Linked DNA regions of Homo sapiens: all the other regions are linked to region 5. The links come from fine-mapping of genetic effects on gene expression. A gene starts in region 5. Each other region holds a variant in brackets. All regions are shown on one strand. Distances are between the middles of the regions. Region 1 has its middle 30 kb from the start of LINC02432. Region 2 has its middle 23 kb from the start of LINC02432. Region 3 has its middle 78 kb from the start of LINC02432. Region 4 overlaps LINC02432 (long intergenic non-protein coding RNA 2432). Region 5 holds the start of IL15 (interleukin 15). Region 6 overlaps IL15 (interleukin 15).

What was found.
Region 1: its variant is fine-mapped to the expression of IL15 in whole blood (TOPMed, PIP 0.93).
Region 2: its variant is fine-mapped to the expression of IL15 in blood mononuclear cells (TOPMed, PIP 0.97).
Region 3: its variant is fine-mapped to the expression of IL15 in fibroblasts (GTEx, PIP 0.91).
Region 4: its variant is fine-mapped to the expression of IL15 in whole blood (TOPMed, PIP 0.99).
Region 6: its variant is fine-mapped to the expression of IL15 in whole blood (TOPMed, PIP 0.95).

What each region holds. Positions count from the first base shown.
Region 1 is chr4:141,360,279-141,365,502 of GRCh38, forward strand. No RefSeq gene overlaps it. Among named protein-coding and RNA genes, the nearest start is that of LINC02432, 30 kb to the left of the region's middle. The variant G/T (reference allele first, on the strand shown) is at 2,578.
Region 2 is chr4:141,306,862-141,311,405 of GRCh38, forward strand. No RefSeq gene overlaps it. Among named protein-coding and RNA genes, the nearest start is that of LINC02432, 23 kb to the right of the region's middle. The variant C/T (reference allele first, on the strand shown) is at 1,731.
Region 3 is chr4:141,408,089-141,413,312 of GRCh38, forward strand. No RefSeq gene overlaps it. Among named protein-coding and RNA genes, the nearest start is that of LINC02432, 78 kb to the left of the region's middle. The variant G/T (reference allele first, on the strand shown) is at 2,967.
Region 4 is chr4:141,325,349-141,330,572 of GRCh38, forward strand. All of the region lies in intron 1 of LINC02432 (long intergenic non-protein coding RNA 2432), which reads right to left. Among named protein-coding and RNA genes, the nearest start is that of LINC02432, 4.7 kb to the right of the region's middle. The variant T/C (reference allele first, on the strand shown) is at 2,346.
Region 5 is chr4:141,634,021-141,639,244 of GRCh38, forward strand. It overlaps IL15 (interleukin 15), which reads left to right and starts at 2,563. Exons shown (of 8, transcript NM_000585.5): 1 at 2,563-2,728. RefSeq lists an enhancer at 2,476-2,565.
Region 6 is chr4:141,703,178-141,708,401 of GRCh38, forward strand. The region is part of intron 2 of IL15 (interleukin 15); the gene reads left to right. Among named protein-coding and RNA genes, the nearest start is that of IL15, 69 kb to the left of the region's middle. RefSeq lists an enhancer at 4,366-4,866. The variant G/A (reference allele first, on the strand shown) is at 2,947.

The DNA of each region.
Region 1 (5,224 bases), 270 kb before region 5:
TGTATGCGTCCAGGAATTTGTCCATTTCTTCTAGATTTTCTAGTTTATTTACATAGAGGCATTTATAGTATTCTCTGATGTAGTTTGTATTTTTGTGGGGTCAGTGGTGATATCCCCTATATCATTTTTTATTGTGTCTATGTTATTCTTGTCTGTCTTCTTTATTAGTCTTGGTAGTGGTCTATCTATTTTGTTAATCTTTTCAAAAAACCACCTCCTGAATTCAATGATTTTTTTGGAGGGTTTTTGTGTCTCCATCTCCTTCAATTCTTCTCTGATCTTAGTTATTTCTTATCTTCTGCTAGCTTTTGGATTAGTTTGCTCTTGTCTCTCTAGCTCTTTTAATTGTGATGTTAGGGTGTTGATTTGGGATCTCTCTAGCTTTCTGATGTAGGCATTTTAAATTTCATATGGAATCAAAGAAGACCTCATATAGCAAAGACACTCCTAAGCAAAAAGAACAAAGCTGGAGACATCACACTACCTGACTTCAAACTATACTACAAGGCTACAGTAACCAAAACAGCATGGTACTGGTACCAAAACAGACATATAGACCAATGGAGCAGAACAGAGACCTGAGAAATAACACCACACATCTACAACCATCTGATCTTTAACAAACCTGACAGAAACAAGCAATGGGGAAAGGATCTCCTATTCAGCAAATGATACTGGGAAAACTGGCTAGCCATATGCAGAAAACTGAAACTGGACCCCTTTCTTACACCTTATACAAAAGTTAACTCAAGATGGATTAAAGACTTAAATGTAAAATCCCAAACCATAAAAACCCTAGAAGAAAACCTAGGCAATACCATTTAGGACATAGGCATGAGAAAGACTTCATGACTAAAATGCCAAAAGCAATCGCAACAAAAGCCAAAATTGACAAATGTGATCTAATTAAACTAAAGACCTTCTGCACAGCAAAGGAAACTATCCTCAGAGTGAACAGGCAACCTACAGAATGAGGGAAAAATTTTCCAATCTACTCATCTGACAAAGGTCTAATATCCAGACTGTACAAGGAACTTAAACAAATTTACAAGAAAAAAATCAAACAACCCCATCAAAAAGTGGGCAAAGGATATGAAGAGACACTTCTCAAAAGAAGACATTTACATGGGCAACAAACATGAAAAAAGCAGCTCAACATCACTGATGATCAGAGAACTGTAAATCAAAACCACAATGAGAGCATCTCACGTCAGTCAGAATGGTGATTAATAAAAGCCAGGAAACAATAGATGATGGCGGGGCTGTGGAGAAATAGGAATGCTTTTACACTGTTGGTGGGAATGTAAATGAGTTCAACCATTGTGGAAGACAGTATGATGATTCTTCAAGGATCTAGAACCAGAAATACCATTTGGTGCAGCAATCCCATTACTGGGTATATACCCAAAGGAACACAAATCATTCTACTATAAAGACACATGCACACCTATGTTTATTGCAGCACTATTTACAATAGCAAAGACATGGAACCAACCCAAATGCCCATCAATGATAGAGTGGATAAAGAAAATGTGGTACATATACACCATGAAATACTATGCAGCCATAAAAAGGAGTGGGTTCATGTCCTTTGCAGGGACATGGATGAAGCTGGAAACCATCATCCTCAGCAAACTAACACAGGAACAGAAAACCAAACACCACGTATTCTCACTCATAAGTGGGAGTTGAACATTGAGAACCTATACACACAGAGAGGGGAACAACACACACCAGGGCCTATTCAGGGGTGGGGGTTGAGGGGAGGGAACTTAGTGGAGAGGTCAATAAGTGCAGCAAAACACCATGGCACACGTATACCTATGTAACAAACCTGCACGTTCTGCACATGTATCCGATATTTTTTTCTTTTAGAAGAAATAAAGAAAAAAAGAGGCAACTATTGCCTGGTTGGCTATCATTCTATGATGTTAGTAGCCATTTATCTTCATTGCCTAATCCAGGAATTGGCAAACTAAAGCAAATCCAAATCCTGTTTTGTAAATAAAGTTCTATCGCAAAACAACTATGCTCATATATGTATTGTGTATGGCTGCTTTGCTCCAACAACAAAATTGTATAGTTGCAATAGTGACCATGTGCACTGCAAAGCCTACAGTATTTATTGTCTGCTTTTTTAAAATTATACTTTAAGTTCTAGGGTACATGTGCACAACGTGCAGGTTTGTTACATATGTATACATGTGCCATGTTGGTGTGCTGCACCCATTAACTCGTCATTTACATTAGGTATATCTCCTAATGCTATCCCTCCCACCTCCCGCCACCCCACGACAGGCCCCGATGTGTGATGTTCCCCTTCCTGTGTCCATGTGTTCTCATTATTCAATTCCCACTGATGAGTGAGAACATGCAGTGTTTAGTTTTCTGTCCTTGCGATAGTTTGCTCAGAATGATGGTTTCCAGCTTCATCTATATCCTTACAAAGGACATGAAATCATTCTTTTTATGGCTGCATGGTATTCCATGGTGTATATGTGCCACATTTTCTTAATCCAGTCTATCATTGATGGACATTTTGGTTGGTTCCAAGTCTTTGCTATTGTGAATAGTGCC[G/T]CAATCAACATACGTGTGCATATGTCTTTATAGCAGCATGATTTATAATCCTTTGGGTATATACCCAGTAATGGGATGGCTGGGTCAAATGGTATTTCTAATTCTAGATCCTTGAGGAATCGTCACACTGTCTTCCGCAATGGTTGAACTAGGTTACAGTCCCACCAACAGTGTAAAAGTGTTCCTATTTCTCCACATCCTCTCCAGCACCTGTAGTTTCCTGACTTTTTAATGATCACCATTCTAACTGGTGTGAGATGGTATCTCATTGTGGTTTTGATTTGCATTTTTCTGATGGCCTGTGATGATGAGCATTTTTTCATGTGTCTGTTGGCTGCATAAATGTCTCCTTTTGAGAAGTGCCTGTTCATATCCTTCGCCCACTTTTTGATGTGGTTGTTTGTTTTTTTCTTGTAAATTTGTTTGAGTTCATTGTAGATTCTGGATATTAGCCATTTGTCAGATGAGTAGATTGCGAAAATTTTCTCCCATTCTGTAGGTTGCCTGTTCACTCTGATGGTAGTTTCTTTTGCAGTGCAGAAGCTCTTTAGTTTAATTAGATCCCATTTGTCAATTTTGGCTTTTGTTGCCATTGCTTTTGGTGTTTTAGACATGAAGTCCTTGCCCATGCCTATGTCCTGAATGGTATTGCCTAGGTTTTCTTCTAGGGTTTTTGTGGTTTTGGGTCTAAATTTAAGTCCTTAATCCATCTTGAATTAATTTTTGTATAAGGTGTAAGGAAGGGAACCAGTTTCAGCTTTCTACATATGGCTAGCCAGTTTTCCCAGCATCATGTATTAAACAGGGAATCCTTTCCCCATTTCTTGTTTTTGTCAGGTTTGTCACAGATTAGTTGGTTGTAGATGTGTGGTATTACTTCTGAGAGCTCTGTTGTTCTGTTCTATTGGTCTATATCTCTGTTTTGGTACCAGTACCATGCTGTTTTCTTTACTGTAGCCTTGTAGTATAGTTTGAAGTCAGGTAGTGTGATGCCTCCAGCTTTGTTCTTTTGGCTTAGGATTCACTTGACAGTGAGGGCTCTTTTTGGTTCCATATGAACTTTAAAGGAGTTTTTTCCAGTTCTGTGCAGAAAGTCATTGGTAGCTTGATGGGGATGGCATTGAATCTATAAATTACCTTGGACAGTATGGCCATTTTCATGATATTGATTCTTCCTATCCATGAGCATGGAATGTTCTTCCATTTGTTTGTGTCCTCTTTTATTTCGTTGAGCAGTAGTTTGTAGTTCTCCTTGAAGAGGTCCTTCACATCCCTTGTAAGTTGGATTCCTAGGTATTTTATTCTCTTTGAAGCAATTGTGAATGGGAATTCACTCATGATTTGGCTCTCTGCTTGTCTGTTATTGGTGTATAAGAATGCTTGTGATTTTTGCACATTGATTTTGTATCCTGAGACTTTGCTGAAGTTGCTTATCAGCTTAAGGAGATTTTGGGTTGAGACAATGGGGTTTTCTAAATATACAATTATGTCATCTGCAAACAGGGACAATTTGACTTCCTCTTTTCCTAATTGAATACCCTTTCTCCTGCCTGATTGCCCTGGCCAGAACTTCCAACACTATTTTGAATAGGAGTGGTGAGAGAGGGTATCCCTGTCTTGTGCCAGTTTTCAAAGGGAATGCTTCCAGTTTTTGCCCATTCAGTATTATGTTGGCTGTGGGTTTGTTATAAATAGCTCTTATTATTTTGAGATATGTCCCATCAATACCTAATTTATTGAGAGTTTTTAGCATGAAGGGCTGTCTAATTTTGTCAAAGGCCTTTTCTGCATCTATTGAGATAATCGTGTGGTTTTTTTCTTTGGTTTTGTTTATATGCTGGATTACGTTTATTGATTTGTGTATGTTGAGCCAGCCTTGCATCCCAGGGATGAAGCCCACTTGATCATGGTGGATTAGCTTTTTGTTGTGCTGCTGGATTCAGTTTGCCAGTATTTTATTGAGGATTTTTGCATCGGTATACATCAGGGATATTGGTCTAAAATTCTCATTTTTGTTGTGTCTCTGCCAGGCTTCGGTATCAGGATGACGCTGGCCTCATCAAATGAGTTAGTGAGGATTCTCTCTTTTTCTGTTGATTGGAATAGTTTCAGAAGGAATGGTACCAGCTCCTCCTTGTACCTCTGATAGAATTCGGCTGTGAATCTATCTGGTCCTGGACTTTTTTTGGTTGGTAGGCTATTAATTATTGCCTCAATTTCAGAGCCTGTTATTGGTCTATTCAGGGATTCAACTTCTTCCTGGGTTAGTCATGGAGGGTGTATGTGTCCAGGAATTTATCCATTTCTTCTAGATTTTCTAGATTATTTGCATAGAGGTGTTTATAGTATTCTCTAGTGGTAGTTTGCATTTCTGTGGGATCAGTGGTGATATCCCCTTTATCATTTTTTATTGCATCTATTTGATTCTTCTCTCTTTTCTTCTTTATTAGTCTTGCTAGTGGTCTATAAATTTTGTTGATCCTTCCAAAAAACCAGCTCCTGGATTCACTGATTTTTTGAAGGGGTTTTTGTGTCTCTATCTCCTTCAGTTCTGCTCTGATCTTAGTTATTTCTTGCCTTCTGCTAGCTTTTGAATGTATTTGCTCTTGCTTCTCTAGTGCTTTTAATTGTGATGTTAGGGTGTCAA
Region 2 (4,544 bases), 330 kb before region 5:
AAGCATCTTTATGTAAATTACTTCATTGTCTTTGTGTCTATTTTTTTCATGAAATATTCCCAAATAAATAATTATTGAACTAAAATGTAATAAAGGATATTTTTAAAATGGTAACCAGCTGCCAGACTGTTTCTCAGAAAGCTTGAACTGATATTCCATACCATGGATAATATTTTATCATAGCAATACAAAGTTTAAGCACTTAAATTTTTTTTTTTTTTGGCCAGTTTGATAGATGTAACTTACTCTATTATTTAAATCTTTTCATCTTCTCTGCGGTTAAAATAGAATGCTTGTAAAATTGGGACATGAATTTAGGGCAGAATCAGAGTGACAGCTTTCCGACAGATGACCTCTCCCTCATCAGTGTTATTTTCCAGTTTCTTTGGCTCATTTTGCAGTGAACAACCTAACAGGGTGAAAGTTCCAGATACTCTGACAAGGTGATGGTTTTGAAGAGAAGTTCTGCTGCTGGGCAGAAGAGGGCACTGTTTGTTTGTACTGAGGCAGAACAAACCCTGACCTGTTTAGAGAGAGCAATCACTGTCAGAGCCAGCTCTTCACTTCACACTTGTGGTCCTGTGACCACTGTGGTGGCGACCGCAGCTCCTTCCATGCATGACAAGTCCTGTTAAGCATTGAATTTGTTATTATGCACTGAGGTCTGTGAAGTTCCTGCCTCCTAGAAGACCAATGGAATCATTTACACTGCTGTCACCGAGGAGTTAGCACCCAGGCAGTTGCCTACCACAAGAAGGAGGGCTGGTTTGCTCCAGGAGACACCAGCCGGTCCGGACACCTGCAAGACTCTGGGGAACCACAAGGTTAATTAGAATTTGATGAGCAGTGAAGGTCAGGAATTTAGAAAGGCTGGAATAGCAACCAGACTAGGATTGTAAGAACATTTTTGTTAAAATTAAGAAGTAATACCCAAGATTTTTAGGCCAACCACATTTCTGTATTTCTTGTTTTTTTTGTTGTTGTTTATTTTTTCTAGTTAAAAAAAGTCACATAGGAAATGTACAAATGCATTATTATTACAAAAGATTAAATCACACTATGAAGTGCTGAGCAATCTGTATTCTCTCTTTGGCCTCTTCATTCCACTCACACTCCCTTTCTCAAAGGCCACTGCTGTTAATAGTTTGATGACTTTGTTGTGGGCCTTTACAGACACAGGTGCATACACTGTACACATATATCTTTTTTTCTCTCCAAGAGTGGGATCTTGCCATACATATTATCCTGAAACTAGTTTTTTCCCCCACTTAACCATAAATCGTGTCACTGTTTCCATGAGTTCAAATTGGTCTTCTTTTGCATAACTATCTGTAATATGGATTATCATGAATTAATTAACCATTATACTGATGAAACATTAAGGTTTTCAATTTTCACTATTACAAATAATGCAAAGTGAATGTTCTTGTGTTTGTAACTCTGTGCACAGACTTCAGTGTTTCTGTAGGATGGATGCCAGATGTAAAATTGCAAGGTCAAATTTTATGAGCACTTAAAGTTTTAATAGATGTGGTCAAATTGCCCTCCAAAAAGGGAGAAGGTAACTTCTATTTATTTATTTTTACTATACTTTAAGTTCTAGAGTACATGTGCCAACGTGCAGGTTTGTTACATATGTATACATGCGCCATGTTGGTGTGCTGCACCCATTAACTCGTCATTTACATTAGGTATATCTCCTAATGCTATCCCTGCCCCCTCCCCCAACC[C/T]CACGACAGGCCCTGGTGTGTGATGTTCCCCACCCTGTGTCCAAGTGGGGAGAAGGTAACTTCTTAAAGTTATTGATATGTGCAGTCACGAGAGTGTTTGATGGTGCTAAACAGAAGAAACTCTTATGTTGTAGGCCAGAACCTTCAGTGGGCTGATTATATTTGTACAGTTGCCTTTGCTTCACTCCAGTGAAACCATTATGGACTCTTTCCTAAATGAGAATCTTGGGGTTAGTATAAAGACCTTCTAAACTGCAATGGGCCTCTGTCATATTTTTCTCAGGTTTGGGCAGAGGGTTAGGATAAAGGAAGGAGCAAAGTGTCTTCTTGACCTGCAGAAGAGGTTCGGGGGAAATGCCTTACACATCAGCAGGGGCCATGAGAGCAGGTCTTATCTGTGATGCCTCATATCTGATTCTGCTCTTGTCTGCCTACTGTCCACACTATTCTTCGAATCATAATTAGATCACATCGCATTCTGCAGAAAGCCTTCTAGTGGGCACCCCTGCAGGTACCTTGGCTTATTAGGCCCCTTTACACTCTGACCTCTTCCCCTGAGACATCATATCCAACTAGGCTGCCTTGTTCTTCCTGCCCCAACCCTCACCTCTCAGCCCACTGGCTTCATTTTGGCTCTAAACACACCAACTGAGAAAGTGAAGGGACTTCAAGTAGATGTCCCGGAGGGCTCTGAAATGTGCCCTCTACTTTGGGAAGCCTGATAAATCTAACAGAATGCACTGAATCTGATTGGGGCCAGGAACTGGGAAGAACAATGAAAGGGCTAAGTGTTCCTGAGGTAGAGCCCTGAGAGCATGGTCTAAGGGCTGCGCCAGTGTTTCCCTGGACCAGATGTGTGCCGGGGGAAGAGATTTTACCTGGGGACCAACAGGGAGGAAAATAGGCCACAGAAAAAAGAGGCCAGTAGGGACTGCTAGTATGGACATGCAAAGTAGCCAGGAAAGGAGTTGCAACCAAGGAAACTGCAGGTGAAGGAAGTCCCAACAAGGAAATCTCTGAAGAGACCTTGAAAGAGCCTCATGTAGGAAAGGGATAGCTTAACATCTGTCTACTCAGCCACGACTTCAGCTTTAACCATCTGGTAGGCCCCCAAAGCCCAAAGAAACTTCCCAGCCAAGTAACTTTGCTAACTCTTTCTCTTTATGCACACCTCTTTATCTCCCAGCCCAGCCTTCACAAAGCAGAATACTGATTCTGTATTGTGGGAGCAGATGAGCAGAGAGAGCAGACAGCAGGAGGACTGGGCTCACTGGCCACCCCTCCACCACCCGAGCCATGTGAGCTGGAGAGGACATTAAAAGCAAAAATAAATAGAGAAATCTAGAGGCTGGGTTTCTCCAAGAGACTGGACTGTCAAACTTCCTCATTGAGACTGTGCTTTACACAGGTGAGCAGAAGGTTGCATCCTCTGAGAGTTGCTGGGAAGTTAGGGACTTGCCCAAGCCTTGGTTCAGTTGCAGAGTACTCCCACTCCATCGTGTGCGAAGCACACTTCTCAATCTTGGCTGTGTATTAATGTCACCTGGGAAACTTTCAAAAATCCCAATGCCTGGGCTATGCTACAGTCCAAATAAATCACAACCATTGAGGGTAGGGTCTAGGCATTAACATCTTTAAAGAGCCCACATAAATTCAAGGTGCAATCAAATGGTGAGAGATAAAAATAAGGTTGCCTTTAATCATAACTAAGAGATTGTTCCCTATACTAAAAATATATTTGTTTTTATATTAATTCCAGGGCCTTTATAATTCCTGAACTTTTTAATGTACAAATTACAGATTTAAAGGTAAATTATAAACTTTAAAAATATTTAGGTCATCTGTTACTTAATGCTATAAAGAATACTTTTTGAAAAGGTGACAAGGGCTTATCTACACACAAGAATCTAAACTATGTCCTACATCGAGTTGTGAGAAGGCTAGCTAGACCCCAAATTGCAAAAGTAGAATATGCATTAAGACTTTATCATTATGCTATAATATGATGAGACATACTCTAATTTACCAATATATATCAGGTTGATAATGATTTTAATATCAATGGATGTATTAGTTAAGGTTCTCTAGAGAAATAAAACTAATTATCTATATCTGTATTGACATAGATATTTATTATATAAATTGCTTATGATATTACAGGGGCCAAGAAGTTCACAATCTGTTGTCTGTAAGCCAGAGAACTAGGAAAGCTGGTGGTATAATTCAGTCTGAGACTAAAGGCCTGAGAGCCAGAAGTGCCAATGTCTGAGGGCAGAAGAAGCTGAATGTCCCAGCTCAAAGAGAGAGAGCACATTTTTATTCAGACCCCCAAGAGATTGAATGATGCTCACCTGCATTGGTGAGGGAATCTATGCAGTCTACTGATTCACATGCTAATCTCTTCTAGAAACATTCTCACGGACAAACCTGGAAATAATATCTTACCAGCCACCTGGACATCCCTCAGCCCAGGCAAGTTGATACATAAATTAACCATCACACTGAGCTTCAGTAGCATCACAGAGAGTTTTAATTGGATTTAGCTCTCTTCCTCCATTACCAGAAAGAAGTACCTTGGAGAAAATGGCAGTTTGGCAGAAGTAGCAAGAACCGCACTTGTGATGTATTTTTTTTTTTCATACAAACTTTCTCTCTAATGGTACTTATTAATTTCCAAAAGCCAAATATTTGTGGTCTGACTGCATCAGAATCACTTTGGGGACCTGTTAAAAATACTGATTCCCTAGTCCAATCCCAGAACTCTGGTGCCAGCCTTTCTGGCAGTGAAGCCTGAGGAGTGATGCTCCCACGTGG
Region 3 (5,224 bases), 230 kb before region 5:
ACCTAAGCTCAAAATATAAATCATCAAGATTTCCAGCATGCATGTTTTCCTTTATTTTTTTTCCCTATAAAGAAAGGTCAGTGGGAAATGTTTACACTTCCAAATGTATTGGATTTCTGAGAATGTATTCCCCTTTTAAAATAATGTATCATTTTAGTTATGATGTCCAATATGGCAGACCCTAGTCATAAGTGGATATGTAAATTTAAATTAATTACAATTAAATACAATTAAAAAGTTACTTTTTAAAATGCGCTAGCTACATTTCAAGGGCTCAACAGCCATATTTCACTAGTGGCTATCATATGGGACAGGGTGATAACAGGGCATTTCTCTCATTGCAGACATTTCTATTGGAAAGTGTTGCTGATTAAGCCACTGTAGGCAAAAGTCACTGAAATGTAGATAATAATAAAATGTCTTTTTTCATTATTTGTGTGCTTTTCTAAAGGTGTTTAGAAAAACCCTATCATATATGATTTTGTTACACATGTTTGTGAGAAAGAAGTCAGTGTGATGATTAACTTTATATATCAACTTGACTGGGCTAGGGAGTACCTAGATGTTTGGCCAGACATTATCCTGGATGTGTCTGTGAGGGGTTTCTAGATGAGATTAAAATGTAAAGCAGTAGACTGTGTAAAGCAGATTGCCCTCCCTAATGTGGCAGGCTCTCGTCCCATCCACTGCGGACCTGAATAGGAGAAAAAGGCTGAGTAAGAGGGAAATCCTTCTGCCTGACTGATTGAGTTAGGACATTGGTCTTTTCTGGTCTTCAGACGGGACTGAAACATTAACTCTTCTTGACTTTAAAACTTACTAGCTTTGGGACTGGAACTTACACCATTGGCTCTCCTGGATCTCCACCCAGCCGACTGCAGATCTTGGGACTTCTTAGCCTCCATAATCACATAAGCCAACTCCTTGTAATAAATCTCTCTCTCTCTCTCTCTCTCTCCCTTTTTATCTCTCTCCCTCTTTCTCTCTCTCTCCCTCTTTCTCTCTCCCTCCCTCCCCCCGTGTGTGTGTGTGTGTGTATAAGTGTGTGTGTGCGTGTGTGTACACACACATCTATATCCACTATATCTGTATCCAAAAACACACATTCTATTGGTTCTGTTTTTCTAGAGAACCCTAATACACCAAGAAAGGAAGGGAAATAAAGTTTTTGGTAAATAATTGAAAGGCGAAGTTAGTCCCTTGGATTTTCTTTCTTTTGTGTCTTAACAAGTTCCAGCCAGAAAACAATCCAATAAAAGAGACATGTGCTCATCTGTGAGGCAAGCAAAGGTGAAAGGGGCAAAAAAACAAAAACAAAACAAAACAAAATAAAACAAAACACTGGAAACAGCCAGATAGAGTAAATATGTAGGGAGAAAGATATGAGAATCAGACAACAAATGGCAAGTTTGACAAAATCTGGATTCTCAATAGCAAAATAAAATTATGAGACTGAAGATTATTATTCAGGTTGAAGCTTAGGTATTTAAAAATATGACTGATTATTCTTCAGATGTCCACCTGGGTGGCTTAGGATTTTAGGAATCCCATTACACTGCTTAGAATAAAAATGGATGTACCTGGGCCTTTGTAAGCCATGGTTTCTGTACTCTTAGGCCTGAGCAACAGCTCAACGATGGAAGATACTGCGATTTAGTAGCATACAAAAGACCGCTGAATCATCACCATGTGCAAACAAATACGCAAACACCCATTCTTTTTCATGATTGAAGAAATAAACAAGGGTGGTATTAATTATCTGGCTAAAATAAATTATAATGAATGCAAACTCATTACTGTTGAAATCGATGCATGCATAGCAGAAGGTACATTTACTGAAGTCAACATACTTAATTACATTTGGAGTAATAAAGAGAGTAGGCATGAAGTCGAATGTCTCTTGAGCCTAAACATTAATTTTGATCTAATTTTCTTTTCCTCAATGTTGAAAAAATGAAAAAGCAAACAAAATTAAGAGACCAATGTTAACTTTATTAGCGTTGTTAACAGGGGATTTTAAGCTGTTTGTACCATGTGTTTTCCACATTGTGATCCAAGAAAGGTCACTTGATTTTAAAGCCAATAATGTTATTATAAGTATAAAGGTAGCCATATGGCATTTCTCATTCTACAAGAATACAGGTGACATATATAAAGCTTCAAGAGCCACAGTGACAAAACCAAGGGATACACAGAATTCTGACACTGTGGAATGAGAGTCTTTATGACACTTGAGTTTTTGTCCAAAAATTGTTTTCTTTCTTTAATCTGTTTCTCTTTCCAAACAATGTCGAGATTTTTAAAAATTTAATAATTCTTCAGTTTTACATATTTTCTGTTAGCATGGGGTTTTGTGATCTTGCTTAAACTTTCAGATGACTTTATGTTGTTTTCCCAAATAAAATGTTAAAACTCCTATTCAGACTTCTTCATAGCACCTAGCAGAGTGTTGGGCAAAAAGGTATATTGCTGGGTAAATAATTGTTAAATGAGTAAATGAAGAATGAAACCCCTGATATCTATGAAAACAGATAACCCTGGCTGACATGGTATTCTCTCAATTGAGGAGAAAACATCCTGGCCAGATAAATGGCCTGAAAATTATTCTCATTAGACTGCTTGGCTGTTAGAGATAGGTGTTCTGATTTAGAAGAGAGAGTTTTGATTTAAAAGAACCTGCCTACCACTTAGAGGATATAGGACTGTAGATCTCTTTGATTCTCTGTATCTGATCAGCATCTCCCATACAGCCTCATCCTTAGATACATAAATGTTTGTCTTCAGCAAGAAAGTAATTTCTGTTGCCTTTTCTTCAGAAGAAATATTCGACTTTTAAAAACTGTGTTGTTTATGCTAGATTTCTCATGAGTAATAATTGGAGTATGGAAAGTGGGATATTAGTAAGTATTTCAGTATGCCATCCAATTTTAACATTCCCAGTTGGTGAAATAGGAATTTTAAAAATC[G/T]AATGACGTAGTGAAATGCTGCAAAGTTGGCAATTTCCTGCGTTGTGTTCTAGCAAAGGCCTGAAGATATTTGAGTGGAGCCCTGGTAATATCTGTTCTGAGTGAACAACTGGAGACAATTTTTCTCCAACTCCCTAAAACATTTGGCAATGTCTATAGAAATTTCTGAAACCATATGTGAGTAAGTTGCCCACCTGATGCCCCATCAACCTCTAGGATTTTTAATAAACATTTCCTAAAAACAAGGACTTTATCCTACATAGCCACATGATAATCAAAATTACAATGTTAAAATCAATACATTACCACTCTAATTCTCAGTCCTCATTCAAGTTTTGACAATTGACCAGTACCATCCTTTATGTCAAAAGGGTTCAACAGCGTGTTGTAGTTGTCACGTCTTTTTAGTCTCCTTCAGTTTAAGACAGCTCCCTGTCTTAAATTCAGCTTTCTGGATTACATAACTTTGCCCAGTTAACTTTTTAGAATGACTCTCCATCTGGGTTTATTTAATGTTGCCTTTTGATTATATTTAAGTTGTGCATCTTTGGCAGAATTGTCACAGAAATGATGCTATGTGCACTTTCCTGGAATCTTTTCAGGTAGGGCACAATTTTGATTTGTCCCATCACTGATAATGTTTATTTTTATCACATGATATAAAGGTGATGTCTCCACAGTGAAGTTACTCACTGTAGCATATTTTCTGGGGAAGTACTTTAAAACTGTGAATAGCTCATTATCTGCCAAACTTTCAATTTATTCATTTAAATATATATGGACTTGTGGTATCTTATTTTCTTCAATAACTTATAATCCATTATTTATCATTATTTATTTTGATGATCAACTTTTCCCTGATTAGCCAGTGAGAGCCCAGTACAGCTGCCTTTTGTATTCTATTGATATGTTCTTATTCTTCTTTGGGCAACTCCTTGCTTTTTGACACAAGATATTCCAGGTCATCTTGTATGTTTCCCTGTCCCAGCCCTGGAATCAGGAATTTCTCCAAGAAGTCCTGGTTCCTTCTAGTGAAGAATAATATTTAGAATCCATGATCTGGAAGCCAGATGTGTTGATTACTATTGGGATGTTTCTGCTGCTCTCTGGCACTCTCATCTGAGGAATTAGGCAGTTAGGGAGTTAGAGAGTTAGGGAGTTAGGGAAATAGGGACTTGGGAAATTAGGGTGCTCTCTCTCCACAAATTCACACCAACGCCTCCAATTCCATTATTACATCACAGGGTTCATCAGAGTTTTCTCACTTTGCATATTCATAATACCATTCTCCAACATTAAGAAATGTGGCTCTCATTATCCCTAATCTATTTACCTTATAATCTATGTCTGTGTATGTAACCCACTTCCCCTCTCCACAAGGAAGATGCCCTCTCCCTGTGGAGACCTGCCTCCTCGTGCTGGCTGTCCATGCTGTAGGTGCCCTTTTCATCACAAGCAGAAGGCACCTTCAGCAGGACTTATTTTTCACCTGCCCCATCCAGGTCTCACCCACAGGTAGACACGCTCCTTGTATTGCTTGGGCCACCCCTTCATTTGGATTTCTCCCTCACCTAATTGGGCCGGGTGGTCCTGCATGGATGCCTTACCTATCCTGTTTTGATACTTCACATGAGGTTGCTCGCTTGCCAAGGGCCCTTGTCACCCTACACATTCTCTGAAGTTTTCAATTGAAAACTGAGATGATTATATATTGGGACTCAGTGCCATTTTTATGGCAGTCTTGCTCTTGCTCTTCTTCCAGCCTGGTGAACCCCTTTTCTAAATGTGACAGCAGGTAGTAATTGCAGAAGCCATTGCAGGCAGGACTATGCCAGCTCTATCCCACCGGGAACTTAGAACTCTTCGTGGGAATAGGCACCGTGTCTTCAGGTTGTCAATCTTAAATACTTCTCACAATAACATCTCTTGAGACACCAGAAAAGACACCAACCATAGACAGTTATAGAGCTTCTCTTCTTCTATGATAATCAAGATTTTGCAGCTAATAAAATTATTCACCACTTCCATTCACCCCTGCCCACTCTTTGCATGATCACCTTCCTAGAACTGAATGACTATCTTCTCAGCTGTTCATGCTTTGGGGTCTATGCTTTGGAATTTTTGCTGCAGATTTGAAAACTTCTCTCATTGTCACAGAATTCTAACCTCTGTACTCCAAACCAATATGCACAGAAATTTGTGCAAACCTTTTTAAGGTCTTGTCATACTCTAGCAATGAGCTTAGTTTTCCATGCGAA
Region 4 (5,224 bases), 310 kb before region 5:
TTTTAAAGGACAAAATCACTGCATATAATTGAAAATTGAAAATGTACTTAAGTATACTAAAAATGAAAGTCATTCTCATTTTCAACCTATTTTTCACTCCTCTGAAGTAATAACTGTTAACAGTTTGTGCATACTTACAAACATTTTTTCATGTGCATATTTATAAAATATAAAGTTCTATATATTATTTTGCAACTCATTTTTATCATTTAGTAATACAAGTTGTGATAATGTAAAATATATGTCTAATTTATGCCTTTTAATTGTCACATTTGTTGCTTTCAACTTAAAAGATTTTTAACCCATACCTCATTAGTGATCGTTTCTGCAGTTTCCAATTATTTTCTTATTGCAAACAGTGCTACAATAAAATATTACGTTGAGCAGAAATGCTACTATAAGTATCCCCATAGCATTGTTTGCAATAAGAAAAAAATTGTTACAACTCTTGTTGGAGAAGGTAAGTGTATCTTTAATATAAACTCACAGGGTAATTTCATATATCAGGTTTTTTTCCTATAATATGATAGTTTAAGACAAACGTTTACTATTATTCATAGGATGACATATTGGTTTAGTGATTCTTTTAGTCTTGGCTAGATTGATTCACATGTCTGCTGTAAGTAAGCTGTGGGTTGGCTAGGTGTTGCTGCTGATCTTAGCTGGGTTCTCCCATACATTTGGGGGTTGACTAACTGTTGGCTGGCCTAGAAAGCCTCAGGATTTCTCCTAGAAGCCCATCCTGGGCATGTTTTCATGGTGAGACTGAGGGCCACGGAAAGGAGGTGGAACATGTAAATGTTTCTTCAAGTCTCTTGTGTCTTTTGCTACTATTCCATTGGCCCCAGCAAACTTGAATCCAAGGTATGTGTGGTAGGGCATTTAGCGTCAGTGTGAAAAACTAGAATAATTTTTGCAATCAATTTTCGTATATATTTTAACAGTTTATGGATATTGCCAAATTGTCCTCTCACAGGATTTAACAAATTTTCACTACTACCAATGTTGTATGAGAGGATTTTTGGCAACAAAATTTAGTCTCCCAGAGTGAAAAATTACGAACACAGGACAATCTTGTTCCTTCTGATTTTTACTATTATGTTCTAAAACTACTGACCAAATTTATAATACTTATTGCTTTTTCTATTGTACAGCTTTTCTTAATAATTTATAACATTTGCATTCTTTTTGATAAATTTAAAGCCATATTAATAGTTCTTTTTTTTGCCTTAGCCATAATTAGAAGGGAATTAATGTTTACTTTATTAGTTTTTTCAGAAAGCAGCTTCCACATTCTTAAGCTCTGTACTGTGAACCACATCTTAGTTGGGTAAATTTTGTTATCAGGAAGGTTTTCAAAACATGGTCATGCATGTTATATTTTCTGAGATCATTCACATCTAACAATCTTTTCCTATTGCTTTTATACATGAATGGGCTGAGGATAAAATTATTGGGTCCCATATTTCCCCTTATTTATCCATTATCTTCTGGAATTGAATGTTCTATGAAGAGCTTTGATATAGGTAATCTACCTGTCCTTCCATTCATTTCAAAACGTTAATTAAGCATCTAACATGACAGGCACTATTCTAGGCACTGAGAGTATAGAAATAAACCACACACACACATACACACACATACAAACACACACTCACATACACACACACAAATATCCTTGCTTTCCTGAAGCTTAAGTTCTTGTGAGAGGACATCACTAATAAAAAGAAAAAGTAAATAATTATCTATGTAGTATGAATAAATAGATTAAGTAAATGAAAGTAAAACAAACAAAAAATTGAATGGCTTAAACAACATAAATTAATTTTTTCACTATTCTGGAAATGAGAAGTTCAAAATTAAGGTGTTGGCAGAGCTGTCTCCCCTCTAAAGACGCTAGGGAAGAATCCTTTCTTTCCTCTTCCTAGCAAGAAAGTGGTTGCGGCAGCGTCACTCCAGTCTCTGTCTCAGTTGTCACACTGTTTTCTTTTCTATGTCTCTGTGTGTCCTCTCCTCTTATAAGGTCCTTAATAGGTTGACTCTAATCCAGAGTAAACTTATATTTAACTAACTGCATACACAAAGACTCTTATTTCCAAATAAGATCCCATTCTGAGGTTTAGGGTGCACATGAATTTTTGAAGGACACTGTTGAACCTAGTACAGGAGCAAATACTGCCCTTAGTATTACAGAGTGAAACCTTCAACAATAGGAAGCACACGAGTGTTGGTATTTGAGCAGGGTACCAGTGAAGGAAGATTACAAATCATGATTTGTCCTATCTGCACAGTCAGCTACCCAGTATAACCCGAGGCTTGATTCTGGAGTGTCTCCACAGGTGGAA[T/C]AAAATTAGGGGCCAATGAGAAGAGGAGTAAGAGGACCACTCTAAGAGAGGAAGACAAAACCCTTCAAATTCATGAGTCCACTTGTTTCCTAGAGTATAAAGATGAAACATCAAATTGTGACCCAGCAAAAGACCTACAGAGTGGGAACTGCTCTGTAGCACATATACAAGGAAACTGATGTGATTGGATATTGATTGCAATAATGCCTTTGCAAATCCTCTGGTTCTACAGCCCCAGGTCAACTGTATTTGTCTTCTTTCTATCAGAGGAAACCAAGCCCTCAGCTCTCACATGGGCCTGACATGGAGGAGATAGATCAATGAAGTGGGAGAAAAGCAGCAATGGTGAGGTGGGAGACGACACCAGCACTTGATATTCTATCTCCAGAAAAGTGGATATTCAAGATTTGTACCTTAGGCACCATCTGCTCATCCTGATTTCTTTTAATCACCAATGCCAATGTAGAAAGAGAGATGTAACTCTACACCTCTTTGCTTGAGCTTAGGGTCATTTTCACAACTCCAGAGTTCTGAGAAAACTCTACCTAATGGGGAAAAAGTGTTTATGTTTTTACTCAGTTGTTTCGTTACATAAGTTGATTATGTTTGAAAATAAAGTGTATTGTTTGCTAGTTAAGAGTGATAATTCTTATTCACTTGCATTTCAGGAGCCTCCGAATGAGGAAATCATAACTCAGGCATTAAAAACTACTTTCTATATTTGAATTACTTTTTATCATTTGTCTGAGACTTGACCATAAAGATGCTATATACATCTAATAAAGCACAGAATTGCGCCCTCACACAAAGTGGGTTATTTCAGTGATTTGAGGCAGAGAAATCTGTTTCTGAACCCAAGTCACAGGTGGTGGGACTCCTTCATTGTTTGTACCTTGTAAGTAGAAAGCAAAGGGAAAAGTCAACCAAGCAATCTCAGTTGCCAAGGAGACACAGTATTTTCTATTGAATGAAGAAAAAATATGTGAACTCCCTACTTTTGTTGACTCACTACAAGTCGATACCAATGATCCTGAATAAATGGTTTGTCAAACAACAGGGCCTTGTTGTCGTTTGCATGGATGGGAACTTCACACAGTGTAAAAAATCAATACTTACCGATTAATTTCTTTGAGAGTGTGGCCTTGCTAGTATTGCCTTTTATATTACTAAGTAGATTTACTTTCTATATTTCCTCCTTCCTCATTGCTTAAGGGAACATTTGCAAGATTCATAGTAATGAGTCGATTCAGACTAGTACAATTCAAAATATGCAATTTGATTCATATTCTTCCAGGTTCTGAACAGCTACTAGTTTAGAAGCATGCTGAAAACTATGCTATAAATGAGCCTTTCCTATTTGATTGGCTTCACACAGTCTCCAAAGGCCGCTCTCCTTGCTATTCGTATATAAGAAGATAGACCTTTGGTTGTGTGGACAGCAGAAGTAAGCAAAAAGAACTCTTGCTCATTCTTGAGGTTCACAAGTTCTAATTATCACAAACAGAACATGAGCTGAGCCTGAGACAGCCTACAAAATCACTGTCTATTACTTCTTCAAATGTGGTGCAATATGAGGCCTCTGCTGAGGGAAATATAACCACACCCTGATTGTATTTTTATCTGCTCATCTCATCAAGCTTTGATTTAGCAACAGATGATTAGGCAACCGTTGTTGGAGGATATTGCAAGCTTATAAAACCCTGAGATTCTTGTTTAACGGAAGGGGATAAAAAAGACATCAGGAAGCATTACAAAAGTTTTCTTTAATGTTTATCTGGCCTGTAAAATAGTGAGTACAAGTAGGAGAATCAGTAAATAGTTATTTAATGACCGATGGCTCTGTGACTAGTATACTGTAGCAAGTCCATAGGAATGAATGCTCATGGAGAAAGGAGGTAAAAAGTGAAAGAGGGAAAATAATTTCAACAAAAGCAAGATCTGTGTTTTAGATGAATTAATATGAAAATTAATGTACATTTCCTTTAACAAAAACATTCATGTTCTTAAACGCTCAAGACTCCTAATTACTTTTATGAATATAAATGGCTAGACCTTTGTTACCCGATTGATTATTAGAATTGATTTCCCTGGATAGTCTGTTTCTTTTCTCATTGATTTAAATGCCCTTTGGAAGTTGAGCTCACAGATTAAAAAAAAAAAAATGTGTCCTTACCAGACGGAAAACAGTATTCTTGGATCCAGGGTCCTTAGCTCTTTGGATCATTTGGTCTCTTGAAACTCTTAAGGATGAAGGTAGGGACAATGCAGGAACATGGAAACTGAAAATTTTGGGTGTTGGGTTTGTCCAGTACTGCATCAACTTCATTTTACAGCTTTCTCTTTACCTTGTTTCATTTTCCCCCCCTCCATGGCTTTCCTAAAATTGTCAGTTTCCTGGAAGACCCAGACACCAGATCTGTATTGCCTAGCTCTTACTGAATGTTTCAAAGAAATGTTTGGCTACTAATCCACAGTATTATTAAACTGCAACCAAAAGCAAGCCTAGAGTCTCCTGGTTTAGGTTTTGAGACTACTGTGAATGTGTAAGCTCAAGACAGGTATGTCCCTGCTTGGAAGTAGACAGGAAAATCTTTGCACTGCTGAATTAAGCTACAAAATCAGCAGTAATTACACACCTGCTTGTTTTTCTCTTACCTCCTGAAATTTCAAAATGTATTGATATTTTAGTGAATATATTATAAAATAAAATACACTTAATGTATTTTACATTGTCTAAAATCTTACAAGGAATGGCTGAGACATGAGTGACAGAATTGTGCTGATGCTGTAGGACTGACACTGGAAGGACAAAAAGAACTAGCATTTGTCTAGCACTTCTCTATTCCAGGCTCCGTGCTAGATGCTTTAAATATAGTATT
Region 5 (5,224 bases):
CTTGTAACTTCTTCCATGTAATCACAAAAGCTAGAAAATAAATTATTAGTAATTTATTTTAAAGATGATTGCCCAATTGACATTGTTTTTGAAAAAAGATATTAAAAATTTATTAAACTATAATTTTATTGTTAATTATTTGAATTCAGGAAGATTATTATGGTCACTTCTATGAGATTTAGTTAATCTCCACTTCTTTCTACCCTGTAATTTTATTAGTTATCTTAAGACAGTTTCAAATTATTTCATCAATCTTCATCTTTGCTTTTAATTTATGCAGCAGAATTTACTTGTTCATTGGTATGAGTAATTTTCAATATTTTGCCAAACAGCCTGTGGCAACTGAAAACACAAGTTGCATACATTAGACTTTTCTTTTTGAGTGCAATGCAACAAAAACAAATTATGTTGCAAACCCAACTTCATTGAACTGCAGGCACTCATAACTAATTAAAAATACTTTTAAAACATCTGTATTTATGAAAACAAATTTGACCAACATATTTGGGAGGCAAATAGTAGAGCAAAGCATATCTTATGACTATAATAATTTTTAGTTGTACTTTACTGTTATTTATGTTTTTTATCTCCCTACTCTGACAAAATGCTTTATATATCATTTAGTCCATCTTGTTCTAGAACCTACTATAGTTGAAACCCAATAAACAGTTGTAGACCAATTTTCTTACTGTTATATACTCAGATTATGCCTTAAGTTCACCCTACAAGTAAACTTTCCGTCAATTTCATAGTGTTGTGAAAACTCTCTAGTAGCTCAGAACGTTCTTGGTGGTCTCAATATATTAAAAGTATGCAGTCAGATACTGATGGCCCTGAGTCCTGCAGACAGCTAACAAAGCTGAAGCCCACAGGCTAGTGAGCACCAGCTGAGAGCACTTTCTATAGAGTTTGTGGGCAGTCCAAGAGAGACAGGATCTGAGATGTGATGATATGTCCTCTGGCAGCAGCAATATCTGATATTGAGCTCTGCTAGGTGGTGCTGAGCGTGGACACCTGCTTCCTTCACCGGCTGCAGAGAACACAGTATCCATTAAAGGAGCTGAAAGAGGTGCTAGAGGAGTTTACATGGCAGGAGTCCAGGAAGCTCTGCAACAGTCCAAAATGAGGTTGGGACACATGATACACTTGTTCATCCCTATTCTCTATCTTCACACATATGCATATCAGTCCTTCCGTGGCTGCTATATTCTTGTGGTGAGATCCAAACCAGCTGCAGTCTTGCTCTCCCAGTGCATGCTCATTCTGCAAATCAGAGCTTCAATGTATTGCTATGAAAAATTCTGACTGGTCTTGAAATCCATTGACACCATCACAAGAAAATTCAACATGACATCGTCATGAACAGAAATGGATGATGGCTTCATATTCTTAAATATAATTTCCAACTATGGTGAAATTTTGAATGGTTGTAAAAACTGTTTTTGCATTTTTATACCTCACTTATTTTGTTAATGGAGACTATCTAGAGTTTGATGTAATTCTCATCAAAAAGTCCATCAGTAATTATTTCAAATATAAAACTGATATCAAAAAATTGAGTTAATGAAAATAAACTCAAATTTTTCATAAAAATATGAAATTATATTATACGGAACTTTATGTACATGGAAAGTGAATAATTTCTATTATTTTTCTATTTGATATTTATCATATTTATGTAATTAAAAACATAATTAAATTTTAAACTAAATTAAACTGCGCTCCAGGAAGACATCATTTTCTCTGAACCATGACTCTGAAAATTTGGAAAGCACCGTACAAGAGGGATTTTCAGTGATTCACAAGAGTGCAAGATTCTGCAAAGTACTTTCAAAACTAAGCGTGAGATCTTTGCTACTGCCTTTATGGCATGCAAATCACTCAGCCTCAACTCAGTTCCTTCCTCCAATGTAAAAATACTACAAGAACAACATCTCACGCTTCCATCAAATGGGACCATGTGTGATATTTTACACTGGACTACACAATAGGCTGGAAAAGTGATCCGCAGAGAGGCTCATTGCTCTAAGTTCACTCCCTGTACCAACTGTCTTGCACAAAGCTGCCACCCGGGTGTCTTCTTCCAACATTTCCCCTAGTTGGACTTCAAAGTTTCCTTCTTGCAGCCTGTGCGGGGACCAAGAGGCCGGTCTAGAGTAGCCGCCCAGCATCCAGATCCGACATCCTTTTCCCTTTCCTCAGGAAGACTTGGATGCGCGCCAGCCCAGCCCGGGTCTCCAGGTTCAGCTGCGGAAGCTTCCCACATGGTGCCCGTCGCTTGGGATGCGGCTATCCTTGTGCCTTCTCTGCAGGTGTCCCGGCAGGTAGAGGAGGAGACCGGTGGCTGGTGTTCCTGCAGGGCGGGGCTGGGGCTCCTCGATGTCCTTGCGCTTGCCCTGCAAGTTCTGCGCCCCAGGCCCCGGCAGGGACGGAAACAGGCCGGGAAGCAGTGACACCTGGGGCAGTCAGTCATCCAGGAGCCGCCGCCACCCGCCCCACCCCCAGTCTCCGCGGGAGGTGTTTGTCTTCGCCTATGCTCCCGGCTCTTTCTCTTTCACTTTTCTTTTCGCCAGGGGTTGGGACTCCGGGTGGCAGGCGCCCGGGGGAATCCCAGCTGACTCGCTCACTGCCTTCGAAGTCCGGCGCCCCCCGGGAGGGAACTGGGTGGCCGCACCCTCCCGGCTGCGGTGGCTGTCGCCCCCCACCCTGCAGCCAGGACTCGATGGAGGTACAGAGCTCGGCTTCTTTGCCTTGGGAGGGGAGTGGTGGTGGTTGAAAGGGCGATGGAATTTTCCCCGAAAGCCTACGCCCAGGGCCCCTCCCAGCTCCAGCGTTACCCTCCGGTCTATCCTACTGGCCGAGCTGCCCCGCCTTCTCATGGGGAAAACTTAGCCGCAACTTCAATTTTTGGTTTTTCCTTTAATGACACTTCTGAGGCTCTCCTAGCCATCCTCCCGCTTCCGGAGGAGCGCAGATCGCAGGTCCCTTTGCCCCTGGCGTGCGACTCCCTACTGCGCTGCGCTCTTACGGCGTTCCAGGCTGCTGGCTAGCGCAAGGCGGGCCGGGCACCCCGCGCTCCGCTGGGAGGGTGAGGGACGCGCGTCTGGCGGCCCCAGCCAAGCTGCGGGTTTCTGAGAAGACGCTGTCCCGCAGCCCTGAGGGCTGAGTTCTGCACCCAGTCAAGCTCAGGAAGGCCAAGAAAAGGTACCGCAGCTCCCCACTTCCTAACTGCTCCCGTCCCAAACTCATTGTGGGCCGGTGCAGATGTCTGTGCGTGCGCGTCTATCCCTACCTTTGCAAAATCAAATTATCGCCCTCTTCTTTGCTTGCACACGTCTTCTGGGAGAGAAATTTGCAGGAATGGTCAGTGCTTGGCAGTCAGGCCTGGGTCTGTATTGGTTCCAACTCTGCGCCAGCCAGTTATCTCTTAGAGAAGCGATAGTGTATCTAGAATGTCGAAGGAACTTGGAAAAAATACGAGCGAATTTCACTGAAATAAAATCATTATTCAAGGTGGCTTTTAAATGAAAATCCAGCCAATTTTTTCAAGTGTTATTAAGACCGCATGTAGCAAGGGTATATAGTTCATTTGACTTTATGTAATTCCATGCATTAAAAACTATGTTGACTTCAAAGTATGTCTAAACCAAACTAATTCTTAAATGATGCTTACAACAGATTCTTAAATAGGATGAGTCAGCAATTTCAAAACTGGAAGTAAAGTGGTGGTCACCAGCTAGTTTCCATTATATATTTTTAAACTACTATCTAATATTATGATACTGGTGGTGGCCAACTAAGTGGACGTCATCCTTATCTTGTCAGTGTGGTGAAAGAGGCCATATTAGCTAGGCTGAATTTTTGCTCAGGTATTACAGAATAAACTGGTGATTATGCATCCTGCCATGTAGAGGTTATAAGGTGAACCATTCTACTGAAAGCATCAAGATACAATACACTTTTGGAAGGCCGAGGCGAGAGGATAGCTTGAGACCAGGAGTTCCAGTTTATAGTGAGCTATATGATCTGCCACTGCACTCCAGCCTGTCAAAAAATAAATAAATGAATAAAAAAGATATAATACAGGTTAAATTTTTAAACTCCTGTTGTTTTCGTGTGAAGTAATGTGGCCAACAGAGCAAGGAAATACATGGGAAGGAACATAAAGACATATAAAGAGAAGAACTGAAAATACAGCAAAAGCCATTTAGATTTAAAAAGTGAAGAAAAAGCTAGTTTTGCTTAAAGTTAACAAGTATCATAGAGATCTTAAGGTTTGTTATGATTGTCTTAGTTTCGGGTCCTTATTCGTGTAAAATTCTCACAGAATTTTAGTCAATCAGAAAAGTCTCTCCTGCAGTATCATCTGCTTTGCAACAGTGACAGAGAAGGGTCAGTTGACCATTGGTCTGGAACTTCTGATAGGCAGGGTGTTCCCATACTTTTGGTTTCACTGTTCCTTGCTGATTTGGAGTGGCAACTCCAGAACCTGATTGGAAGCTATAGTTCTGGTTGGAATTTTCCTGCAGACTACTGGTGATTAAAATGATGCTCTTTTGTTTTAATCCATGAAATTAATGTAGCCAATGTCAACAGCTATATTGCAAGGCACAATGTTTATAAATTTCCTTGGGGGATGGAGAAAACAGTGGTTTAAGGTTTATCGAAATAGATTTTGGAAGTGGAAGGTTTTAAAGCCTACGGGATACTCCATCTCAGATTTGCTGCCTCTGATGAATTTCAGGACAGCTAGAAGAGCAGCCCTGAAATGCTGGGTACATGTGGATTTTTCTCAGGAAAATATCCGTAACTTTGATCAGCTTTTTAAATGGGTCTCTGACCCAAAAGAGTTTTAAATCTTTTGAAAATATAGACTACTGTCCTTTTCCCCTCATCTCTCCTGGAGTTTAATGTTGAGTTCTGCTCATTGTGTTAACTATTTTTCTGAAGGTTAGCTGATCATAATACAGAGTTCTGTCTTCAGACCTATAACTTAAGTTATGAGAAACAGTATGAATAATAACTAACATTGTTGAGTTCTTATTATGTATCAGACATTGTTCTAAGGATGTATTTTTTAAAAACATCGTAATAAACTTATGTGGTAGGCAATATATTTTACAGCTGAGGAAATTATCAAGGTCACAGAGCTAGAAAGTGGTAGAGTTGGAATTCCAACTGAGACAAGTTTAAGACTGGTGGTATTTATGGAGGATGGTATTAT
Region 6 (5,224 bases), 69 kb after region 5:
CCCTGCAGAAATAGCAAGCATGACTTTTGGGTCACATCCCTCCTCCTCTCGTCTGCCCTCAAGGCTGGTCAGCAGTGCTCTTCCCACTCGCCACCAAGTTCTGTTGATGGGTGTACATCCCTACTCAAAATTATATCACAAATTCAGCTGGGAGCTTCTTTTACCCTGTGACCCCTCCCTGAGCTCATTGGCTAACTTTCTTGAGGGCTCCTGTGAGATATAGTCAGGAATGGCTTTCCTTGGTTCATACTAGAGACTCAGAATACCTGCAAGGCACTTCCTGCGACTGCTTCTACTTTTATTTTCACGAGGCTCCCTAAATTTGTTCCAGCTCTTGGTAGCATTAAGGCCTTCTCCTGTGGCCTGGATTTTCAGATTCCTTAGTGGGGATATGTGCTCAAAGGTAGAATCTCCCCGTCTCATACTCTGGGAACTTTTATTTTTTTTCCTATCTCATGGAGTAGGCTGCAGCCTATCACTTCTTTCAAAAGGTCTGTGGATTTTTCCAGTTTTCCCAGTGGGAGAGGCATGCTAACACTGCCTCCTATCTGCTATCTTGAAAAAAAAAAAAAAAAAAGGTGTATAGATCATTCACTTCCTTGGTTAAGTTTATTTCTAGGTATTCGATTTTTTTAATTTTTTGTAGCCATTGTAAATAGGATCCCTTTTTGATTTCCATTTTAGCTAATTCATTATTGGTGTATAGAAATGCTGGTGATTTTTAAATGTTGTTTTTCTGTCCTGCAACTTTACTGAATTTGTTAATTTTAAAAGTTTTTTGATGAATTCTTTAGGGTTTTTAATATATAAAGTTTTATCATCTGCAAACTGGGACAATTTGACTTCCTCCTTTCCAATTTGGATGCCTTTTATTTATCTGGCCTAATTGTCCTGGGTAAGATTTCCAGTACTATGTTGAATAGAAGTCATGGATAGGCATCCTTGTCTTGTCTTTAATCTTAGAAGAAAAGCTTTCAGCAATTCCCCCTTCAGTATGATGTTAGCTGTTGTTTTGTCATATATGACCTACTGAGATACATTCCTTCTATGTCTAATTTTTTGAGAGTTCTTCACATGAAGGAATGTTGAAGTTTTTCAAATGCTTTTCTGCATATTATCATCTGGATTTTGTTTTTCTTCCTGTTAATGTGTTGTACCATATTTATTGATTAGCTTGTTATACCATGCTTACCATGCTTGCATCTCTGGGATGAATCCCACTTAATCATACTAAATGATTTTTTTAATATGCTGTTGGATTCAGTTTGCTACTGTCTTGTTAAGAATCTTGTGTCTATATTCCTCATCAATATTGACCTATAGTTTTATGTTTTTGTTGTATCCTTGTCTGGTTTTGGAATCGGATTAATGCAGGCATTATAAAATAAGTTTAAAAGTATTCTCCCATCTTCAATTTTCTTCAGTAGTTTGAGGAGAATTGGTGTTAGTACTTTATATATTTGGTGGAATTCAGCAGTGAAGCTTTCAGGTCCTGGTCTTTTCTTTGATGATGGAAGACTTATTAGTGATAATAATAAATAATAATTTATATTAATTGTTATTAATTTCTTTACTCATTATCAGTCTGTTCAGATTTTCTATTTCTTGGTGGATTTTCTATTTTAATTTTGATAGGTCATATGTGTCCAGAAATTTATTCATTTCTTCCATGTCATCAATTATTTTGGTGTATACTTATTCATAATAGTCTCTCATGATCCTTTGTATTTTTGTAGTATCAGTTGTTATGTCTCATTTTTCATCTCTTATTTTATTTATTTGAATCTCTCACTTGTTTTTTACCATAGGTAAAGGTTTGTTGATTTTTATCTTTTTAAAAAGCCAAATCTTTGTTTTGGTTTTTATATGAATTCATTTTTTTGTCTGTATTTTATTTGTTTATGTTTTGAATTGTATTATTTCTGTCCTTCCTTCTACCAATTTTGGGTTTAGTTTGTTCTTATTATTTTTAGTTCCTTGAGGTGAATCATTGGATTGTCTACTAGAAATCTTTCTTCTTTTTTGGTGTAGGCATTTACTATTTTAAACTTCCCTCTCAGAGTTTCTTTCACTATGTCGCATAGGTTTTGATATGATGTGTTTCCATTCTTGTTTGTCTGAGGGAAATTTTTTTTCACTTTTACTTCCCTCATTGACCCATTGGTTATTTAAGAAAAAGTTGTTTAATTTCTATGTATTTTTAAATTTTCTGAAGTTTTTATTTTAGTATTGATTTCTAGTTTTATTGCATTATGGTTAGGAAAGATACTTGATATGATCTCTATCTTCTTAAAAATTTTAAGACTTGTTTTGTGGCCTAACATGTGATCTATCCTAAAAAATGTTCCATATGCAGGTGAGAAGAATGTGTACTCTGTCGGATGCAGTGTTCTATAAATGTCTGTTAGGGCCATTTGGTCTATGGTATAATTTAAGTCCAATGTTTCTTTGTTGATTTTTTGTCTAGATGATCTGTTCATTGTTGAAAGTGGTATATTGAAGCCCTCTACTATTATTGTATTGCCCTCTGTTTCTCCTGTTAGGTCTAATAATATTTGCTTTAGATATCTGGGTGCTCTGGTGTTGGGTGCATAAATATTTATAATTGTTACATCCTCTTATTGAATTGATTTCTTTATTTTTATATAATGACCTTCTTTACCTCTTTTTACAGTTTTTGACTTGATGCCTATTTTATCTGATATAAGTATGGCTATTTCTGCTTGCTTTTTGTTTCTGTTTGCATGGAATATCTTCTTCTATCCCTCCACTTTCAGTCTGTGTTATGCTTGTTGGCAGCATATAGTTGGTTCCTTTTAAAAATTCATTCAGCCACTCTCTATCTTTTAACTGGAGAATTTAGTCCACTTATATTCAAGGTTATTATTGATAGATAATAACTTACTCCTAACATTAAAAAAATTACTTTCTGGTTATGGTTATTTC[G/A]TAAATGTTTTGTTCCTTTCTTCCTCTTTTATTGTTTATCTCTGTGGTTTGGTGGTTTTATGTGTTACTAAGCTTGGTTTCTTTTCTCCTTCTTGTTTGTATATGTGTTATATCTTTCTTTGTGGTTATTATAAGGATAAAGGGTACTGATGGTTTATTTAAATCTGATAGCAACTTAATTTTGTTCACATAAAAATACTCCAGATGTTTTCTCTTTTCTTTACTATTTATATATTTGTTTCCTTAATTTACTTCTTTACCCATTATGTAGCTGTTGTAATTTTTGACCGTTTTGATTTAAACCTTCATACTAGAGGATTAAAAGATTTGCATAACATTACAGCGCTAGGATATTCTGAGTTTGATTTATGAATTTACCTATACTGGTGAGCTTTATATTTTCACACGTTTTTATTATAGTAATAATGAGCCTTTCATTTCCAATTGTACCACTCCTTTAAGCATTTCTTGTAAGATCAGTTAAGTGGTGATGAATCCCGTCAGTGTTTGTTTGTCTGGGAATGTCTTCATTTCTCCTTCATTTTTGAAGGATAGCTTTGCTGAATATAGTGTTCTTGGCTGATTTTTTTTTTTTTAATTTTCAGCACTTTGAATATGTCATGCCATTCTCTCCTAGTCTGCTGAAAAATCTGATAGTCTAATAGAGATCCTTTTGTATGTGAGTTAATACATTTGTCTTGCAGCTTTTAGAATTCTTTGTCTTTGACTGCTGACAGTTTGATAATCATGTGCCTCAGAAAGGATCTTTTGGGGTTCAATTTAATTAGGGACTTTTCAGCTTCCTGAATCTAGATGTTTGTATCTCTGAATACTTGGGAAGCCTAAAGCTATTATTTCTTAAATACATTTCCTATGCCTTTAAAAAAATTTCTTCTTCCTCTGGCATTCCTATAATGTGAATATTTGTTTGCCTAATTGTATCCCATGTATTCTGTAGGCTTTCTTCATTCTCTTTTGTTCTTATTTCTGTGTTTTTCCTCTGACTGGGTTATTTCAAACGCCTGTTTTCTAGTTCAGAAATTCCTTCATGAAAGATCTAGTCTATTGTTAAAAATTTCACTTGTATTTTTTAAATTTTCATTTATCAAATTTTTCAGCTCCCAGATTTCTGTTTGGTTCTTTTAAAATTATATTTATATATTATGCATTTCTCATTCCAATTATTGATTGTTTGTCTGTGTTCTATTGTATCTCACTGAGCTTTTTAAAGATCATAATTTTTAATTATTTTTTAGGCATTTCATAAGTATCATTTTACTTGGGGTCTTCTACTAGGATTTATTGTGTTCCTTTGGGGGTATCATGTTTTCTTGCTTTTATTATATTTCCTTTGTCTCTGCATTGATACTTGTTCATATAGTAGAATAGTTTTTGTTTCCAATTTTATGGAGTAGCTTTTTCAGGGAGAGACATTTCCTGTAGATAAATCCTAGGGTATAAGTTCAGCATGGTGAATGGCTTTGATTCTGGGTGGACTCAGTAGCACGGTATCTGTGCAGTTTCTTTGGCTGTAATACTCATCAGTGGTGTCTGTGATTGACTCAGTGGTCTACGCTGTGAGAGCTTTTGAGGTAGTGGCATAGTTTTCTTGGGGTGGGAGCACTGGGTTGGTTTTCAGGTTGGGCATGTGGGGGCACAGAGAGCTGACAAGCTGTCTGGCTACCTCTCCAGAGAGTCAGTGGCTACTGCTGTGCTGGCTGTTGGGCCAGGCTTGAGCTTACAGAGATGCTGCCAGCAAGGTGGCTGTGTGGCTTTCTTTTCAGTGAGGCAGGGCAGCCACCAAACTAGATGAGCACAGCAATGCCAAGCATCCCTGTGGCAGTCTGTTGGAGAGGCAGAGCTGCTGCAGGACTGGATGTCGGGCTGCATGTGAATGTTTGTGGGTGCAGCAAGGCCATGCAGCTCTGCAGTGGCCTTTCATGGGAGTAGGTTGCCACATGACCACTTGCCAGGCTGGGTGCAGGCACATACATGCTCAGAGTGCTTGCTGGCTGTGAAGCACAGGTATGTGTTGGTAACATGGCTAGTGGCTGTTTGGAAGCTTCCCTGCTGTGCATATCTGCCTGTTCCCTGAGATAGTGGTGTGCCATGTGAGTTTGGACACTGGGGTCTTGGTCATTATGACATGCCTATGCTCTAGGTAGCTGAGTTTGTGGTGGTGCAAGCATTCATGTGAACATAGTGGAATGAGAGCAGGGCCTCAGGGATGGAGACAGTCAGTTGCTATTGGCTCCTACTAGTGGGTCTGGTTTTAAGA